Linked DNA regions of Homo sapiens. The protein of the gene in region 1 interacts with the protein of each later gene in a biochemical or structural test. Each region holds a gene or a part of one and is shown on either strand. Other genes may lie near its edges.

Evidence for each region. The genes of interacting proteins can lie anywhere in the genome.
Region 2: the proteins of EVL (region 1) and PRPF40A form a complex in vitro, tested with the Homo sapiens proteins (one study listed by BioGRID).
Region 3: the proteins of EVL (region 1) and SPTAN1 form a complex in vitro, tested with the Homo sapiens proteins (one study listed by IntAct).

Annotation. Positions count from the first base shown.
Region 1 is NC_000014.9:100,068,399-100,075,424, forward strand, and holds part of EVL (ena/VASP-like protein), read left to right. Parts: intron 1-7,026. UniProt on the Homo sapiens protein: Ena/VASP proteins are actin-associated proteins involved in a range of processes dependent on cytoskeleton remodeling and cell polarity such as axon guidance and lamellipodial and filopodial dynamics in migrating cells.
Region 2 is NC_000002.12:152,707,444-152,714,469, reverse strand, and holds part of PRPF40A (pre-mRNA-processing factor 40 homolog A), read left to right. Parts: intron 1-2,102; exon of another isoform or gene 2,103-2,166; intron 2,167-7,026.
Region 3 is NC_000009.12:128,604,579-128,611,604, reverse strand, and holds part of SPTAN1 (spectrin alpha chain, non-erythrocytic 1), read right to left. Parts: intron 6,572-7,026; coding exon 6,427-6,571; intron 6,310-6,426; coding exon 6,128-6,309; intron 4,002-6,127; coding exon 3,902-4,001; intron 3,754-3,901; coding exon 3,556-3,753; intron 3,476-3,555; coding exon 3,329-3,475; intron 2,732-3,328; coding exon 2,628-2,731; intron 2,484-2,627; coding exon 2,321-2,483; intron 1,955-2,320; coding exon 1,940-1,954; intron 1-1,939. UniProt on the Homo sapiens protein: Fodrin, which seems to be involved in secretion, interacts with calmodulin in a calcium-dependent manner and is thus candidate for the calcium-dependent movement of the cytoskeleton at the membrane.

The DNA.
Region 1 (7,026 bases):
GTATGTCAGAATTTAGTTAGGGGAAGCCTTTGGAGGGAGGGTTTGAAGCAAAGGGAAAGACATCTCATAGAAGCTTAAGAAAATCACTCTGGGCCCTGTGTGGATAATGGCTGGCAGTGTGGCAAGAATGGAGGCAGGATGACCTCTTGGGAGGCTACCGCAGTCATCCAGGTAAGAGGTGAGGGTGGTTTGGGCCAGCAGTGGAGCAGTCAGGGTAGGCGGTGAGAAGTCACCAGATTCAGGAAGTGCCGTGGTGCTGTAGCCTCCAGGACTATCTGGTGGATCACACATGGGCGTGGGGGAAACATGAGTCAGACATGGCTTAGGTGGGTGGTGATTCCTTTCACCACGCTGGGGCAGCTGGGGTGCTAGCTGGAAGAATCTGTAGAGGTGTGGGCCTAGCAGCACAGGTTCCCAGGAAATGTGGGTTGAACAAGGCTGACCTGAGCAGGAAGTAGCTGAGGTCGCGGTGCAGCAGCAGGAAACGTGATATGGATGTGTGATATGTCTGCCACTTTTGGGGCCAGCCAGTTAATTTCGTTTCCTTCCCTGGTCTCTCTGTTGTCTTTGGTAGGCTGTGGGTTTTTCCGAAGCACGTACTATCTTCTAACGTATTATAGAACTTACTTGTTCTACTGTATACTGTCTTTACCCCTCAAGAATGTAAACTCCCAGAAGGCAGGGATTTTCGCCTATTTTGTTCAGTGGTGTATCCCCAGTGCCTAAAACATTGCCTGGCAATACACATTTATTGAACTGCTGGATTTAATTAACTACTTTGATATATGGTCCTAAAGATTCCTGTGCTACCAAAGTTGCTACTCAGTGGAGCTTCCTGGTGTGGCATGTTAGAGAAGAGACCAGAAAAACAGACATTTCACTTGCTGTCAGGTAGTGAAGGAGCTGTGGCTGCTTGGGCACAGTCATTACTGTTTATTCCACTGTGCTGCACATCTTGAAGCTGTAAAGATATAAGAAGTCTCGCACAGCCGGGGTTCAGCTTACAATCCTTCGCACCTAATTGTACGCCTTTGTGTGAGGGTTTGGAGGAGTCTCCAGGAACACCTGGTGTTTCCTTTCTCACAGGTATTTCCAGTCCTCACGGGCAAGTCAGAGAGTCCCAGAGGCAATTGAACAAGCCCTCAGAGATCACGTAGTCCGTTCACTCTCCATGGGAACCCGCACTTCCCTAGAGACCTGTAGCCAAATCATTTGGAGAGCTTCTGAAGCTTCTCTGCCTTCCTCTGTCTCAAAGAATCCCATGTGCCTCTAGTTGAGAAACATTCCTCTGGAGATTCTAGGTTATTCTCATGAGAATGTTACGATACTCAGGTGGGCTGGGGCAGAAAATGGATGAGAACTAGTGTAGTCCAATGGCTTTGCTTTGGTAACTGAACCCACAGAGGAGGAAAATAACAACAGCTCAGCTTTTCTCAGTGTTATACACCAACCATTACGCTAGTTACATGATATACATACTATTTAATTCTCATCCTTTGAGGTCTGGTATCACTATTGCCACTTTACAGATAAGAAAACAAGGGTTGGCCGGGTATGGTGGCTCACTCCTGTAATCCCAACACTTTGAGAGGCCAACGCAGGTAGATCACCTGAGCTGAGGAGTTCAAGACCAGCCTAGGCATCATAGTAAGACCTCCTCTCTTAAAAAAAAAAAAAAAAAGAAAGAAAGAAAATAAAATTAAAAAATGAAAATTAGCCAGATGTGATAGTGCATGCCTGAAGCCTATAGTCCCAACTTCTCAGGAGGCTGAGGTGGGAGGATTGCTTGAGCCCAGCAGTTCAAGCCTGCAGTGAGCTGTGATCACACTACTGCACTCCACCCTGGTGACAGAGCAAGACCCTACCTCAAAAAGAAAAGAAAACAAGGGCCTACAAAGTATCGTATTCCAGGTCACATTGTTGTCACTTGACGGAGCTTTTGATCTCTGAGAGGATCAAAATCTGCCCTCTCAGCTTTAACTTCTCAAAGCTAAACTTGTCCCAATTTGCAGAGTCAAGGGTAGAATCGAGGCCCTCCTGATCTCTATTTTGCAGTCTCCGTCATTCTGTGCTGTTAATACCACAAGAGACAAAAGAGACCTCGTCTGTCCTGTAGCACCCCGTGCCTGCGTGCGTATCTCTTGTCGATGCTCTGTCGGCTCAGGATCTCTCCTACCAGCCTAGAGCTCTTTCAGAGCAGGACGCTTGTGTTATGCATTCATGTTTGTCCCTGTGCCTAGTAAATAGCACAGAGTCCAAGTGGCTACTTGTGTCTTCAGGGGTGTTTGTAAGGGCAGAGCCGGGGTCTTCATTCCCAGGCTGTTGATTCATCCTTGGAGCTGAACATACTGTCCCAATCCTTGGCCCAAGCCAGGCCTCTACAGTTGTCCCAAGGCTGTGCTAAAACCTGTTCCACTTCACAAGTGATCAGAGTCACAGACTCTGGGGACACAAATTTTGAGATGAAGACACAGAGCAAAATATATAAATGTTTTTGAGGTTTGAGTAGCCTTAACGTCCACGTGGCTGTCAGATGGCTCCCCAAAGAAAGGGCTACGCCGGTGGCCTTGAAAGAGTATGGGAGATGCATATGAGACAGGGTCAGTCTAGGAATGTCAGACTCCCCCAACAGTTGGTTGGAGTGTTTTTCCAGATTGCACCAGACTTCACAGAGTAATGGAGACCAGCTGTCCAGGCATCTGAGAGGGTGACATCCAAGGAGAAAAGGCAAACGTCTTGATTGCCCATGATGTGGGCAACCAATTTGGATAGAAAAGAAGGTGTCAGGGTTTAACACTGAATGTAGACTTTATTTACCCAAAGCCTTTCTTTAATTCTAACACTCTCAAAAATGGGGCTCAGTCACCATTTGGGTTTCCCATGTTAATATGCAGAGAGCTAATTCATTGTCTTTCATTGCTGTAATGCAGCAGTTCTCAAAATGTACTCCAGAGATTGACCCTCCTAGGAGTCTGTAGATCAGAACTGTATTTATAATATTACTAAGACATCATTTGCCATTTCAGCTCTTGTCTCATGAATTCATGGTGGAATTTTCCAGAGCTATGTGATGTTTTGACATCATCACTGTGGCAGCTAATGAAATGTCTGCTTGTATATTCTTGTGTTTTAAAAAATTATTAGTTTTAATTTCAAATAAGGTGAATATGGATAGACTTAACCTACATAAAACAGAAGCTTTTTGGCATCCTCAATAATTGAGTGTAAAGGGGTTCTCTTGACCAAAAAAGTTTGAGAACTATGTGTGTAAAATAGTCAGTTGTATGGCTGCACTACAGACAGCAAGCATGGAATTGAAAATACCACCTGCAAGGTGGCGGTTCCCCCTGGTAGAGAGGAGGGGCTCTGGGTCTGGGAGGAGGATGCAGGCGTCACTTGAACTAAACAGCTTTATGACTTGCTGTCAGATTTCCTAGACTGTGTGGTGGGATCGTGGGAACCTACTTCTCACAGGCCTGAAGTACTTCACAATAAACATTTTAAGTCTACTTCATAGCATGAAACCTGTTTCACACCTGTGCCCATTAAGAAAAAAAAATGGCACCCTATAAATGATTTAATAATTACTAAGGGGAAAATATAGCTTTCCATTGGAGATCTGGCAGTCACCTCTTAACCAACCTACAGTCTACATTCAGTTGGCCTGAATTCTTCACACACACAACATCTTTATCAATGAAAAATTTTTAAATAGTTTCACATCCTAGCTTAGCTTGAAAGGGAGTAAGCAGACGGCTCGATCAAATGTAATCCATGAGCAGATCCTACATCCCAAAAAATCAGAAACATTTTGTAAAAATTGGGTAACTTTTTTGTTGTTGTTGCATCGGAGTCTCCCTCTGTCGCTCAGGCTGGAGTGCATTGGAGCTATCTCCGCTCAGTGCATCCTACACCTCCCTGTGCCTCCTGGGTTCAAGCAGTTCTCCTGCCTCAGCCTCCCGAGTAGCTGGGACTACAGGCATGCGCCACTACACCTGGCTAATTTTTGTATTTTTAGTAGAGATGGGGTTTCACTATGTTGGCCAGGCTGATCTCGAACTCCTGATCTCAGGTGATCCACCTGCTTTGGCCTCCCAAAGTGCTGGGATTACATGGGTAAGTTTTAGTATGGACTCTGTATTAGATTTTTAGTAAAGTGTTGATTTTCTTTGTTGTAACAATGGTATTTAAGTTATATATTAGAATATCCTTATATTAAAGAAATGTATGCTCAGGTCCCTAGGACTGAAGTATCATGGTATCTGCAGCTGACTTTCAAATGGCTCAGGGGAAAGACAGAGATAACTCACATGTGGCAAATGTTAACCATGGGCAGGTTTAGTGAAAGGTAAAAGAGTGTCCCTTACATGTTCCTGTAGGTTTGAAATTTTTCAGATTAAAAAGTTGGAGTGAAAAACAGCTTCAAAGCAGGAAGTAAAAGTTGGAGCTGGGTTTTGCTGCGTCGCCAGGTGGAGCAGAAGAGCCTTACTGCACGGCGGAGCGTCAGGTTGCTGTCTAGTCCAGGCTCTGCCGCGGATCAGCCATGGGCGTTGGGCAGGTTACTTCCCTCTCCAGGCGTGTTTCCTAAGAAAATCACTGCAGAATGTTTTTCAGTTCTGATGCGGCTGTGATTTCAAGCGTCTCTGTTTCTCGGTCACTGAATTGGGACATGGCAACGTGGGTGTGCTTCCTCATTCACCTGGGTAGGTGTTGAGAAGTGATGAGGCCCCAGGGTGATGACTGAGGTCCCCCCACCCACCACTCTGCCTTTGCTGACACTCTTCCCTCTGCTTGAAATGGTTCTTTGTTTCCTCTTGAAAAGTCTTGCTTCCCCTTCATGACAACATCCCTTGGGTCCCCTGGGCAGAACTAAATGCCCTCCTCTTGTGACACTTTGCACGTACAGCACTTTTTCCTTTTTCTTTTTTTTTTTTTTTTGGGGAGACAGGGTCTTGCTCTGTCACCCAGGATGGAGTGCAGTGGTGCAAACACGGTTCACTGCAACCTTAACCTCCTCAGCTCAAGGGATCCTTCCACCTCAGGCTTCTGAGCAGCTGGGGCTACAGGCACCCACCACCATGCGTGGCTAACACTTTTTTATTTTGTGTAGAGACAGGATCTGTGTTGCCCAGGCTGGTCTCGAACTCCTGGGCTCAAGCTGTCCTCCCACCTTGGCCTCCCAAAGTGCTGGGATTACAGGTGTGAGCCACTGTGCCCGGCCCTTGTTTTATTTTTCAAATAAATGCAGGAAGAAAGAAAGAGAAAGCAGAGGTGGCCAGATCTCAAGTAAGTCATGCCACCCCCACCACAAAAATCCGTGGAGGCTGAGAAATACAATACCTGGCAAAACTCAGCAAACATAAAAGCCAGCAGTTATTCAAAGATATTTGTTGAGAAACCACTAGGGCCCAGTTACTAGAGCTACCGAGATGAACACTACTTTAAAAACCAAACCAAACAACCTGCCTCATGGAGGCACTTGCCCCTCAGTTCAGTGGCAAGTATGGTAAGTGTTCTGCAGAAAAGCTAAGCAGCTGAGGGGAGCGGCAGGGGCCCGAGGGTGTGCATTAGCATTCTCTTCAGTGGGTTCAGGGAGTCACCCCCGGGGGCGGTGGGGGCGGGGGGTCGGGGAGCAGTGTGAGTAGAGGCTAGAGGAAAGCACAGGAGCAAATCAGGGCCCGGAAACTGATTTCCCAACAGCCAGGGCTCAGGAGCGGGCCCTCAGTGACCTCCACAGTTGATCTGGGCCATTCCACAGACAGGACCCGACAGCCTGCTCCCACTTGGTGAGGCCTGAGGCAATTCTCCAGGCCACAGTGAGGAACCTGCCACCTTGTTTTTCTCGTTAGAAGTTAAAAGAGTAGTAGGTGATAATGACAGCTCTCCATGTGGACACGGAAGGCAGTTTCATGTAGATTCCACCCTAAGTCTTGCCTCATATGGATTTGCTGTTCATTCCAGCCAACATTGTCCTTTTTCAAGATAGTATCTGCTGGGTGCTAATCATGTTTAGTAAACTGCTCTCCTGTTTATTTCATCAGCCTTATTTGATCTCCAGCAAAGGTAAAAGAAAATGCAAAAAGATGATTCTACTTGTTTTACAGAGCTGTAAACTTACCTCCCTGAAGTCTTGTTGCTGGCAAACAATAGAGCCAGACCTGGGGCAGAGCTGGAGCTGTTGTCCACAGTGTTCTCACTTCCCCGCGCTGACTCCATGGTGAGGGCTGGCCTTAACTCTCTGTACCCAGCCTTGCTTCCCAGCACAGCACTGCTTCCTGGTGGGCACCAGCCAGCCAGACTTTCTCTAAAGTACTCTCTCTCTGTCTGCCCCTCTCCACCTTGGGAAAGACAGTGGTCAGAAAAGGGGCAGTCCAGAGAAGAGCCAAGCCATGCGGTGTCATGGCAGCCAAGGGAGAAGTTTCACACAGGAGGCGAGGAGGGCAAGAAGGAGGGCAAGAAGTCTGTGGCAAGAGCAGAATGGCGAGGCTGGGGCAGGCTGAGGGGAGACAGGGTGGGGCTGCCTGTGGGCAGAGGGGAGTTCATAGTGTGAGAGAGTTCTCCGAGAGCTGGAAGGAGAGGCCTCCAGATGGCAGGAGGCAGGGTCCTGTCCAGCAGTGTCTCTGACTTGACTCCCTGTGTGACTTGGGGGAGCCACACAATGAGAAGTGGGAATAAATGTGATAATGACCTCGTGATGGTGGTTTGAGCATTGTGTGAAGTCAGGTGAAGATGTCACCTATGTTACCAGAGCCAAGCTGCATGGCTGCAGGGGCTCTTCTGAACTAGCAAGTGATGTGCTTCAGAGAGAGACTGGAATTTGGCAAAGGAGAAAGCCCCTGTCTCCTCCTGTGTGCCGGGCCTTGTCTTGGGGCTCTGTGGGTAGACCCCAGCTCTGCTCTGCACTGGAGTGCCCAGACAGGTCTGTGTGAGCACCTCAGTGTGGGCTGCTCCGCTCCCATCCAGGAGGCTCCTTACTGATGGTTCTCAGCCCAGCTTTTAAGATTCACTTTTGTTGCTTGTATGTTG
Region 2 (7,026 bases), on another chromosome or scaffold:
CATAGTTCTAGTTAAAAAAAAAAATGCAGATTTTATTTTTTAAAAGTACTTTCATGTATCTCATTGACATAAGCTGGTCACAGTTTGCTTTATGGCCCTTTCTCTTTAGCTGTATCAGTGACCATCTTTCTAGTAAGTTTACTTGCTACTCGGTACACATCCATTCAAATAACTGATTTTTTTGGTGTGGTTTTCTTCTACTTTTTCCTAGGCTAATATATGCCACGTGCCTTTAAGTAGACCTAATTATTTAGATGTTTAGAATTCTTCTCCCTCTGAAGGCTCCTGTTAGTATAATAAATAAATGTTTTAGTAGGAGTTATGCCCTGAAAGTCCCAAAAGAATCTCCGCTGTTTTTGTCAGAATTATATAATTCCCTTTTATCCCCTTAATATTTCACTAACAAATATGGGTCCCAAATCTTGGTAAAACAAATTCTTGTTTTAGCTTTATAACAGACTGGGAGAGCATGGATAATTTGAATTCTCAAATCAGAAATCATATTTGAAACTCTGTAAACATTGCTTTAAAAATTAAAGGTGATAATAAATAGGACAATTGATCCTTTTTCCTGCATTATTTCTTCTGCCACTCTTGGAAGTACTCAGGAGGAATAAGTGGTCAGAAGATAATTGAGAAGAAGCAGGATGTCTGTCTGTATCATTCACAGTAGTGACAGTTGGGAGGGTTCTGCCATGCAATTTAAAAAAGTCAGTTCACAAATTCTTTAGACTTTGGGACTGAAGGTTATAAAAACCTTCATGTGTTGACTGGTTTGCATGAACATCTCATGCTGGGACTAGCTAAAGACTAAAATTGGTGGCAGTCTTACTTGCCAAATAATTGTGGTCTTTGGAATGTTACCAATATGACATGAAACTGTAAAACTTGTTTGTAAAATAATATGCAGACTGGGTAGCATAATGATGTACGGAAGCCAGGGTTCATAATTTCTCAAATGCATCAAGCTATTTAGCTTAAAGAAGTGGTGTGTTCAAATTTTTTTTTTCTTAATTCATGAGATGACCTAGAGTGCCATCTCATGCATTTAGGCTGACTCTTAGTAGTAATAAATATTTGATGATTATCAAATTGAGCTTAATATTCTTTCAGGTTTATTTCAGTTTTCTATCTTGTAGATTAAATTTGCCTCTTATTCTATATAACTTTATAGGAAAGTCATACTTTTAGAGTTATAGGATCTTATAGCTGAAAGGGACCTTACAGGTTGTTTAAGCTTTAAATAATATGTGATTTAAGATGCTTTGAGGATCACTGGTTAAATGTTAGTAAAGAAAGATAAAGAATTTTCCCTGCTGGATGGCAGTACTCAAAAATTTCCCATTGGGAGGCTGAGGCGGGTGCATCGCTTGAGCTCAGGAGTTGGAGACCAGCCTGGGCAACATGGTGAAACCCCATCTCTACAAAAACTATTTAAAAATAAGCTGGGTGTGGTGGTGTGCGTCTGTCGTCCCAGCTACTTAGGGGGCTGAGGCAGAAGGATTGCTTGAACCTGGGAGGTCGAGGCTGCAGTGAGTCAAGATCACGCCTTGCACTCCATCCTGGGTGACAAAGTGAGACCCTATCTCAAAAAAATAAAGATTTTCTGTAGAGATTTCTATCAATAAAATTATGTGTGAGGCTGTCTTCTTCCTCAGTGTCCATAGTAAATACTGTTTTCATGTCTTTTGTGTTTTCTACACAAAGGACATGCAGGTCCTGCCATCTTTATCACAGATGATTATGCCTTTGCCCCAGAGTCATGCTAGCTGGCTCTTTTTTTTTCCTCCCTATTTGAGTCTTTATTTTCCTCTATCAGTGAGAAGAGTAGAGTAATTGAGTTAAGGTCCCTTTCAGCTCTAACATCCTATGATTCAGTTCAGATCATTTGATAAGAGTAGATATCAGATTTTATGGGATGATATGGAAAGAACAGAAAATTCCTTTAGTAATGCCTCCCTAATTCTATTTATTCAGTGCTTTTTTTTTTTGGTCTTTGGTCAGTAAACTGATAAATGAATAATTGCTTTTTACAAATGAGTTTGATTTTCTTGCTCCTATATTGAGTAAGGCTGGCTCTAATAGATCTTATTTTATTTCAGTTCCTGCTACCACATGAGCCCAAGTCGTCACTCTCCCATGCCTAGGTTATTCAACAGTTTTTGAGTTGAGTTGGTTTTCTTGCTTCAAGGATGCCCCCCTGCCCCCACAAATTTTAGATTTCAATGTGTTATCTCCTTGCCCAAGAATCTCCAGTACTTTCAGTGCCTATAACATAGTATCTAAATTCCACAGCTTAACTTTAAAGAACCTCCCCATAGTACATGTCAAAGCAGGATTCAAGGCTGCATGTCTTTACACTCCCTAATTTGAACTTAGGCTGGTCTTTTCACGGTGTCTTGAGTGATTATATTAGTTCACAACTTCAAACTTAGGCTGTTCTTCTTACCCTCCTGCCCCCAGCTCAGTATCACCATGAAGTTTGCTTTGCTTACCTATGTTGTACTATTTCAAGTCCTGCCTTCTCCAAAAGTTTCTCAAAAATGACTTTTGCCAACATATACCTCCCCTTCAGATTATTAAAGAAAATATTTGTAATCTACCCATAACTCTTACCGTTTCACTTATTTTGGCACCTAGTTATTGACTTGTTTTATGGTTTCTTAATTTGCTTTAATTTTCCAACAAGTAATAGATTGTAAGCTCTTAGAGGGCAGGGGCTATGTTCTGTACTTTTTAAGAAGCCTATAGGTGCTGAGCACAGTTCTTGGCACATCATGGGTGCTCAGTAAAATACTTGTTGAATGAATGAAACAAATACACAGGTATTCTTTCCTGCAGTATAAGCCCATAAGTCAGTCAGTGTTAAATGTGACTGTTTCCAGTGGTTACTTGTGACTTTACGTTGTTACTACTTATTCTTGTTTTTAGTGTCTGCCTCTTTACTCTTACTTTTTCATTTGACAAAAATGGAAGATAAATAAGATGAAATAAATAATTTTTGTTTGGAGAATAAAACTAAAATATTTCCATTTGCAGTCGACCCTCTGTATCCAGAGATTCAAGCAACTGCGATGGAAAATAGTCTTTAAAAAAGCAACAACAAAAAAATACAAATTTTTAAAAATAAAGTATAATAACTTTTATAGCATTTACATTGTGTAAGGTATTATAAGTAATGTAGAGGTAATGTAGAGGAAAAAATAACAAAGTAGGATATAGGCCTTGCAGAGAAATTTAGTGTATTGGTACCTTAGACTTACCTGACTGATTTGACAAATTTATTTGTTGCTGTTCCTTCTGAATTACCCTTCCTTTTGAGTAGCTACAGGATCCATGCCATTGAATTGGGCATTAGCCAGTGACAAAAAAGAGATAGAATTTTTGTTTTTTAGGTCATCTGCTCATAATTCTTGAATCTGGGTAACTTCTGGGTACATGTGGATGACTCAAGCAAGTACTTTTAAAAAATATCTTAACTCAGACCTAATGTCTGTAAATTCTTGACTCAATGTGGTTAGATTTTTGACAAATGTTAATAGTGAGACTACAAATACGTTTATTTTCATTATCTTTAGATAGCAGTTCATTTAAATATGAGCTCATCTATTCACAAACTTAGTGTGGAAAGATCTAAGGAGGACCACATCAGTTGAGAAGAATGACCGGCATCCCCTGCTCCCCTTTTGAAATTCACAAGGCATAATATTTACTAAAGTGATGAGAAGTCTTGCAGAAGCCTTTTACAATTTTTACTTAGTATTTCTGTCTTATTTGACCATCTCCCCCATAAATCTCCCACATAAAGCATTTGTTTTGCTTTGTGTAGCACATTGTATGAAATTAGCATTTTGTGAGAAATGCTGAATTAGGGCCCTTTATTCTTTTAGTTTGCTCTTTAGGAGAAAAAGGCAACATCAAAATAAGTTAGTGTTAACACACATATGCATAAACGAAACAGCTTGTGTAGTGCAATGAATGTATTCATTAGATAGTGGATCAAAAGAGGAAACAAGTCAATAGATTAACCTTTGATTTTTAAATTAGGCTTGTTGAATATCATGATAAGACTAATAGTAGTATTAATAGATAGTAAAGATTTGAGGCTAGGCACGGTGGCTCATGCCTGTAATCTCAGCACTTTGGGAGCCCGAGGTGGATGGATCACTTCAGGTCAGAAGTTTGAGACCAGCCTAACCAACATGGTGAAACCCCATCTCTACTAAAAATACAAAAATTAGCGGGACATGGTGGCGCACACCTGTCATCTCAGCTACTTGGGAGGCTGAGGCAGGAGAATTGCTTGAACCTGGGAGGTGGAGGTCTCAGTGAGCTGAGATCGCGCTATTGCACTCCAGCCTAGGCAACAATAGCAAAACTGTCTCAAAAAAAAAAAAAAAGATTTGGTACATATGCTACACCATAGCAGTGTACTAGGGATTTTGGGGTTTGTTTGTTTGTTTGTTTTGAGACAGAGTGTCTGTCACCCAGGCTGGAGTGCAATGGTGCAATCTCCACTTACTGCAACCTCATCCTCCCAGGTTCTCCAAGTAGCTGGAATCACAGGTGCGTGCCACATGCCTAGGTAATTTTTGTATTTTTAGTAGAGTCAGGGTATCGCCATGTTGGCCAGGCTGGTCTCGAACTCCAAGGCGCAAGTGATTCTCCTGCCTTGGCCTCCTAAAGTGCTGGGATCACAGGCATGAGCCGCCTTGCCCAACCTGTTTTTAACCTAGAGAAATAGGTCCATGTTGTGAAGGTTTATAAGTAGGAATTAATAGATGACATTCCAAGTAGAAATTATCAGTCTCATTCTTATTTTTTTCCTTACCTTTATTTTTCTTTTATTCAGTACACATTTAAGTATCTTGGGTGTGGTACCTAGTGTACAGGTGATGTATGCCCTGCTCTCAAGGAGGTCATTCCTGAGATGCCATTTTGAACTCATTTTTGTCTTCTAACTGCTGATTTGGTTGTTATGGTATTTCCGTACATTTGGAAATCTAGTGGCTATGAATATTTTATACAGGTTGAGTATCTGTAATCTGGAAACCAGAAATGCTCCAAAATCTAAAACTTTGAGTGCCAACATGACACTCGAAATAAATGCTCATTGGAATGTTTCAGATTTTTGAATTAGGGATGCTCAACCAGTAGGTAAAAAGGCAAATATCTGCAAATCTGAAAAAATCCCAGTCTGGTGTCAAGCATTCTGTATAAAGGCCTCTCAACCTGTATTTGCCTTCTTTCGCTGTCTGGTCAAGTACTTGTACATTATGTATCACTTATTTTAAGCAAGTTAGTTGTACTTAGCAGTTATTAGAGATGTGATTGTTGGAAGTGAATGTTCAGTGTTGCAAAGTGAAAATAGCACTCAGGCAAAAGTTTTCTCAGCAAGGCAGTTTACTTCTGTAGAAGGGTGTGTCTTGCAGATGGAGCAATCGTGAGATGGACAAGGGAGGGGAAGAGGTTCTTATTCTTAACACAGCTGGTCCCCACTGTTGTGTCTTTCCCCTACTGGCTAGGGTTGGACCGCACAATCTAAAGTGACCCAGTTGACTAATGTTTGAAATTGAACCCAGCTGTCTAGGCTGGAAGGGAAAGGCTATCCATTATGACACAATGCATGTCTAGGAGAAGGAAGAGTTTATCTGAATAAGGTGGAGGAGAGCTGAGGAAGGTTTTGGTGAGAGCTGTTTTTATAAGTCTTTGCACTAAACTATGAGTACAGGGTATGATACAGCATCCTGTAAGAATGAGCACACCTATAATGGCTGTAAGAGAAGGATTGAGGCTATGATTCCTTTTCATTTACTGAACTACCTCTCTAGCCATGTTGAGAAAGGGTTATCGACTCCAGAATTTTTAGTTAGTTCATTGGATAAAGCGGTAAGTCTTTGTAAGACGCTTATTATGTTCCCAGTGGGGTCAGTGTTGTTTGGGATAAAGGTACAACAGTGAATTTTAATCATAACACAAACATCCCCTATTTTGGCTAATATATCTAGGGCCATTCTGTTTTCTCAGGCCATCTGGCTAGTGGGCCCCAATTGTTCTGTTACCCTTTGACAGCATCCGTGGTGTAATTATAAACCACTGCTGATTATAATAAATGTAATTTATCCAATCTACGTTTTTATTAGTTGTCACTCACAAAAATATTGACTCAAATCCTGCAGCTATTTGATCTCGAGTTTTAAATTTAAGAGCATTCACATCTTGATATCCTGTCTCAGTTGCCAAAGTTTGTTTTAGGTCTTTAACTTCTACAATAGCTACCTTGGTCTTTTCATTAGATGGAGGAGGAGCAATAGTTTTGTTGTGAGAGGTTTTGGAAGAAGGCTTAGGGGAAAGTGTAGGCAGTAGGGGATCAATGCAGCATATTTCAAAGGATCCAATAGGTTCTGTTCCTGAAACCTCAGCCCCCATGCCATAAAACTGGCTTAAAGAAGGGAACCGGCTTATAGAAGGGGAAGAACTTGGAGGGTTTGAGATAATAACCTGTATTGGACAGTACTGGTTTAGCTCACAGCTAGGGGAAGCTGTTTCTTTAGTAAAGTGAATGTATGGCTTTAGGAAATTACAGCTACTGGTTGGGGCAGTTTATCCGTGCTCTTTAGTGGTCTACAGAACGTTTACAACTACTGGTTGGGGCAGTCCATCTGTGCTCTTTATTGGTCTACAGAACATTGGACCAACTGCAGCATAAAAGCTCTGTCTTGGCGGGGTGTGGGGGGCAATACTCCCAGTTGACATTGGGGTCTTTATTGAAACCTTTCCAGACTAAATGATCCCGATTCACTAATATCCAGTCTGAGCAGAGCCAGGAAGGACAGAGGTACTTTTTTGGAGTGGAGAGCTGCTTCGACGTGTCAAGTCTCCACAGGGTATAACAAGGCAAGCATCAAATATAATAGTTTGAGGCGAAATTGACTCGGTTACATTAATAATGAGGTGATCAGCAATAGAGAGGAAAGAAGAAGGAGTAATAGAATAGATGAAAGAGAGTTAAATTTTCCTTAGCTT
Region 3 (7,026 bases), on another chromosome or scaffold:
GTAAATGCCAACGTTTTTAACAGAAGGCAATTGGAGTTTGTATGAAATATTTTAGGGTTCATCTCTTGGGGAGTTAGCAAAGGAGGAAGGAAATGTACTAGCTCAGGAGTAGATGAACTGGAAGTCCTTTTTTTTGAGACAGGGTCTTGCTCAGTTGCCCAGGCTGGAGTGCAGTGGCGTAATCTCAGCTCACTGCAGCCTCAACCTCTTCGGCTCAAGCAATCCTCCTACCTCAGCCTCCCGAATAGCTGGGACCATGGGTGCATGACATCACACCCAGCTAATTTTTCTATTTTTTGTAGAGATGGGGTTTCGCCATGTTGCCCAGGCTGGTCTTGAACTCCCGAGCTCAAGCAATCGAGCCACATTGGCCTCCCAAAGTTCTGGGATTACAAGCATGAGCCACCAAGCCTGGCCAAAAAATCAATTCTTGCAGTAGCTATGCTAGCTATTTGGGAGTGAAGCCCTAGAATTACACACTTCCTAACACTTTCCAGAAGATGGCAATGGCCAACTTCAGTTTTGAATCTGCTTGTACATCAATTTCCATCCATGGCTTTCTCCTTATTGGAGACAGGCTGTAATGAATGAGATACATATGGACATTTCATTATCTAAAGCAGAAATCACCATTAAGCAAAATTCATAACATAAATTGTAATAACCAGCAAAATAATATTTGATGGTCAGTCTTTTCCCTCTGTTGACAGAGGAGAAATCTACAGCTACTACAGACATTGGCTTTGTTGATTTATCTTTAGGTAGCTGTCATTAATCAAAACACTGGGATACTGTCAGAACCCAGGCTTGACTGCAGGAAGGAATTTATTTTACTGGGAAATGAAAGGGCTAGGAGAAGGATGGGCTCCTGATCCTGGGCGCCTGATATGGTTTTTATGAATCCATAAAGAAACAGAAGGTACTGAAATGCTACAAGAGACAATTGCAAGGACATAGCAGCTATGCCACAATTCTGGGAAAAACAATTGGCTGGGTAAGAAATGCAGGGTCTCAGGGGAGTGTTATTTGGGGGGCAAAAAAAAAACAACTAAAAGGCAGTAGTGTTGGGGAATTCTGCATCAAATGTTTCATTTCAGAGGCAGCAACTGTCAAAGGATGGAGCCATCTGGCTCAATTCAGCACTAACATGAAATGTCCTTGTTACGTTCTCCCACCGCCTGATCCCAAAGCCAAGAAGGAAAAGGGTCTCAAACACTCAGATATCCTGACAAAAGTCCCATTACCCTCTTCTTCTGTTCCTTGTTCTGATCACCCTTTGGTTCAAATCCCATTTACTCTCTTCTCTATCTTCATTTCTTCCACCCGCTTAAGTAACTTTGAGCTACATGTTGACTGAAGTCTCCTTTCACTACCTGTTGAGTGATGTCTGCTTTTATCTTAACTTCTCATTTGTGTTCCTTGAAGATTTGGAGGTATTAATAGACCATCCGTCTCTCTACAGTTCTCTAGCTGTTCCTCTCCTGACTGGCACCTCTGGATGCCAGAGTGGGTATGCATTAAAACCCTCACACCAGACTGGCCTCCCCAACCCAGGCCACCGAACACCATGAGCTCATAGCAAGTCTGAGCCAATGTCTACACAGAAAAAGCTGAAGCTGATGTTCCATCTTCAAAAGGAAGCACTCCTTGAAAGAAAATGGTCAATTACTGCCCCGCAAATCAAACACTGTACAGAATTTGCCTAAGTGATAAACTGGGGGAGAGAAGGGGGAGTAAGGCGTTGCAGGCTAATTACAACAGAAAAAGCCACATCCCACAGGGACACTTGAATGGAGTGTAATGGATGATTAGAAATGAAAAGGATGGATGAAGAGACACCAGCAAACCGTGTGACCACAATAATAACAATAATCTACGCAGAGTAACACAAATACTGGAGCTCATTTAACTACAACTCTTAAAAAAATTAAAAACTTACCAGCAGCTTGGAAAGCTACAAAAACAGATTAAAAGAACAAGAGTTCAGTACACTGATGTGGACACACATATCAGCTATTAAATAGAAACTCATTTTGTCATACTTCCCCCAGGAAGCTCAGCATTTGGGAACAGTAATAGAAGGGGGATTCTATAGACTTTTATTACAGCAGAAATAGTTTTAATGGAGACAAATGAGGAAGGCAACTTTTAAATGGCTCTGAAACTTGACTAGGGCTTTCCCACTGGCTGGGCTTACTGAAATATTTCTCACTGACTTCCCATGGGTGCAAGGAGATTGTTTTATAAATGCTTTATTTAACAAAATCTACTCAATAACATAAGGCTACATCAAGACCAACACCCAGTCACTTCAGCTTACCTGGATGTTGGTGGGATCCTTGTACGACTCATCACTCGCTGTTTGCAATTTTTCACTGATCCAAGCCTCAATCTCATCCACATCCCGGCTGAACTGTTGGAGGGTTTGAGATTCTCCTAGCTTTGACCTTTTCTCAATCATCTGGGCTTTCAGACGTCGCCACCTGAAAGAGTGAAACCATGAGATCCAACATGAGCATATCTTACCGTGGAGAAGGAAGTGGGGAGACAGAACAGGCCTGGGCCTTCGTATGAGGGGATGCATCCTCTCAGGGCTGGTGACTATGTCAGTGCCACAGGACACCCACCTGTCCAAGACCTCATTGCGCCGGCTAGAAATGTCTCCCTTGGCATAATGGCCGGCAGCGATGAGCTGGTCGGCAAAGGCCTGCAGAGCAGCAATCTTCTCTTCCTGTCAGAAAACAAAGGCATGAGATCAAGGTGGGCCTGTGGCTGGGCCCTGCCTGGACTGCCAGTCTTGAGAAAAGGATAGTTATTTTGGGTGACTGAGAACTAGCTGGTGGCAGGATCAGAATACACTGACACTTTAGAAGCAAGAGTGTAAAATGCCAAAAGAAAGCTTGATTTCATTCATTACTAGAGTAGAGTTTAACTCAAGAAGTCTCCAGGTCACTCAGGTGGGGCAGGTGTTAGAATATCAGAACAGAACAAAATTAAGCCTGATAATAGGAAAATGCTGTCAGATTTACAGCAAAGTGACGTATAAATCAAACAGTTTTACATCTTCCTTGTTGTTTGTTCATTATTCCCTTACCTACCCACACATTTGTTTTCCATCCCTTTGATAATATTTTTTTTTCCTGTGGCACCCCCATTATTAAAATCTCAGAAATACCAGAATCTATAAAGTTTTAAAGATTATTTATGTACATATTTTTCTTAGACAACGCAGGTATTCCTTGGAGATATAACAGTGACTATATAAGCCAAGAAACAGATGTCAATCAGGAAAAATCCAGACTCCAACTCCATGGTCCAGAGGCCTCACCTGGACGTTAATCGCTTTGTCAAAGTCTTCATGTTTTTTGATCAGAGCCTCTACGCTGTCCAGTGAGTCTCCTTTGTCTTCGGTATTCAAGAAGGCCTCCCGGGCAGCCATCCAGTTCTCAGCTTGCTCACAGTCCCGATGGAACAGCTAAAGAGGGCAAGAGGCAGGTGAGAAAATGAGGCCCTTCAGCAAGGAAACACTTGGTCAGAAACCAGGAGCACACACACCTGCAGTTCAAGGCACTGATCCAGCATCATCCTGCGCTGAACCCAGGCCTTCTCCAGGTCTGCACGCTCCTGGTCAAGAATATCAAGTTTCTGCTTGATCTCAGGGCTGGCATAGTGTCCGTGAGCCAACAGCTGCTGTCCAAACTGCTCAAATGCCTGGAAAGTGCCAGCCCTGGCATCGATTTCTGTCCGGTGTTCCTGCCAAAAGGAGGGAAGGGATTAGGTAACTGGCAGCAGATGCCCACTCTGACGTCAACCACCGACTCACCACAAAGGGTGGGAATGAGGCCTCTAGGGCCCTGCAGAGCAGCCACGTCTTTGCTACTCAGCAGGCAGGTCCACCCACCTGGTGTCGCTCCAGCAATGCCTCAGCTCCGGTGACATCCTTGGCTAGCTCATCTGAGGACACCAACCCCCGTATTCCATTGATCCAAGACATGAGGTCCCTGGAAACCAGCACCCCAGAAAAATAGCTATTATATTACCTGGTAAGGAGATCTTCTGCCCAGGAAAACAGAGAATGACATAATTCTTGCCTCAGAAAGTTATCTTGGGTTAATCTGATCTACTGAATGAGGCTAGGTCTTTGGGCAAAGTGTTAAAAAACTTCTTGTTATTTTTTTAAAAGTCCGAATTTCTCAGAGGAAAAGTCAGTAGGCTTATAATTAAGATCTTTTCACCCTCCAGAATAACAAGTTCTAGCTACAATTAAGTCTTTGATAGCTTCAAATGAAAAAGCTTTTGTTGGCCAGGCGTGGTGGCTCATGCCTGTAATCCCAGCACTTTGGGAGGCTGAGGCAGGAGGATCGCTTGAGCTCAGGAATTCAAGATCAGTTTGGGCAATGTGGTGCAACCCTGTCTCTAAAAAAAAAAGAAAAAAAAGAAAAAGCCTTTCTTTAGGATTAACCCTTGAAGCCCTAGGCCTGGGCATACATTTGATCCAGTTTCTCACAGCTGTACAACCACAAGGGCACAAAACTGAGTGTGTAAGGTCAGATATGGTATGATTCCTTTTATATGACATGTCCAGAAGAGGCAAATCCATAGACATAGAAAGCAGATAAAGGATTCCTAGTGGGTGGGGAAGAGAGAAGAGGGGGTGATTAGTTAAGGAATGTTATTCTAGGGCAATGAAAATGTTCCAAAACTAGAGAGGGGTGGCTGCACAACACCGTGAATACATTAAATGTCATTGGATTGCACATTTTAAAGTAGTTAATTGTATGTTACGTGGCTTTTACCTCAATAAAAAGAAGAAAAAGACAACCAGGCGCAGTGGCTCACGCCTGTAATCCCAGCACTTTGGGAGGCCGAGGTGGGTGGATCACCTGAGGTCAGGAGTTCGAGACCAGCCTGACCAACATGGAGAAACCCCGCCTCTACTAAAAAAAATACAAAATTAGCCGGGCTTGGTGGTGCATGCCTGTGATCCCAGCTACTTGGGAGGCTGAGGCAGGAGAATCGCTTGAACCCAGGAGGCGGAGGTTGCGGTGAGCTGAGATCGCACCACTGCACTCCAGCCTGGGCACAAAAGCGAAACGCTTCCCCCCCCAAAAAAAAAATATATATATATATATGTCTAGGGAAAAATATAATGTCATATGGCAAGGAGATGAGAGGGAGTATGCCCATACTTGGATAGGAAAGTAGAGACTTGTTTTTTTTTTTTTTTTTTGAGGCAGAGTCTTGCTCCATCGCCCAGGCTAGAGTACGGTGGTGCGATCTCGGCTCACTGCAACCTCCGCCTCCAGGTTCAAATGATTCTCCTGCCTCAGCCTCCCGAGTAGCTGGAATTACAGGTGTGTGCCAGTGTGCCACCACGCCCGGCTGGTTTGTATTTTTAGTAGAGATGGGGTTTCACCATATTGGCCAGGCTGGTCCTGAATTCCTGACCTCGTGATCCACCTGCTTTGACTTCCCAAAGTGCTGGGATTACAGGCGTGAGCCACCGTGCCCGGCTGCAGAGACTTATTTTTAACAATATGGCATTCAGTAGTTTGACTATTTTACATTGATTATGTACTACTTTTTTCTGTTTTTAATTTTTTTTTTTTTTTGAGATGGAGTTTCACTCTTGTTGCCCGGGCTGGAGTGCAGTGGCACGATCTTGGCTCACTGCAACCTCCGCCTCCCAGGTTCAAGCGATTCTCCTGCCTCAGCCTCCTGAGTAGCTGGGATTACAGATGCCTGCCACCACACCTGGCTAATTTTTGTACTTTTGGTAGAGACGGCATTTCGCCATGTTGGCCAGGCTGGTCTTGAACTCTTGACCTCAGGTGATCTGCCCGCCTTGGCCTACCAAAGTGCTGGGGTTATAGACGTGAGCCACTGTGCCTGGCCGTTTTTGATTTTTAAATTAAAATTTTATAATAGAAATAGGGTTTCGCCATGTAGCCCAGGCTGGTCTCCGGCTCCTGAGTTCAAGCAATTCGCTTGCCTTGGCCCCCCAAAGTGCTTGGATTATAGGTGTGAGCCATTGTACCCTGCTGAGCATGTACTATTTTCACAATAAAAATGACCCCTACAAAGAAGGCTCTATGTTCCAGAAGTCTGAGTGAACATGGCTCCGTACCGGAAATCGCTAAGGAAGCGCTGCAGGTCGTGGGAGTCACCCAACTTTGCCTTGCGCTGATCTGCACGTTTCCCCAGGCTGCTCCAGGCCTGGTTTAACTCTGTGCACTTTTCCTGCAGGTCTTCTGCTGACTCGGGATGGGACTGGATCAGGCGCTCTGCTGTTTCACCAAGGGAGTTTACCTATGGGAAGAAAGTGGTGAATGAGCTTGCAGTAAGGGGGTATGCTCTGCAGAACAGAAGACTCTGCTCTTTCTGGGGCAAAAATGCCAGACAGAAGATGACTTTGGGTCCTCTCACCTTGTCACCGAGAGCCGCAAGGTCCCTCTCGAAGCCCTCATGCTTGCGTTGCAGGGCCTGGACACTGGCGAGATCATGTCCATAATTGTCTGTGTTTAGAGCTTGATTCTTCTCTTCAATCCATTCTTTGGTTTCATCAGCATCTCTAAAGGCGAGACACATTCAGGTTAAGAAATGCCAAGTACAACTGCCTTGATTACAGGACACTAAAAAAAATTTATTTATTTATTTATTTATTTATTTACTGAGATGGAGTTTCATTCTTGTCACCCAGGCTGGAGCACAATGCACAATCTCAGCTCACTGCAACCTCCGCCCCCACCGGGTTCAAGTGATTCTCCTGCCTCAACCTCCCAAGTAGCTAGGATTACAGGCGCCCACCACCATGCCCAGCTAATTTTTTTATTTTTAGTAGAGGTGGGTTTCCCCATGTTGGCCAGGCTGGTCTTGAACTCCTGACCTCAGGTGATCTGCCTGCCTTGGCCTCCCAAAGTGCTGGGATTACAGGCATGAGCCACCACGCCCAGCCTAAAAAAATTTATTTAGCTGACATTTGTATATTTGTCTGTGGCTACCACCAATAACTCTAAAAAGCCAAAT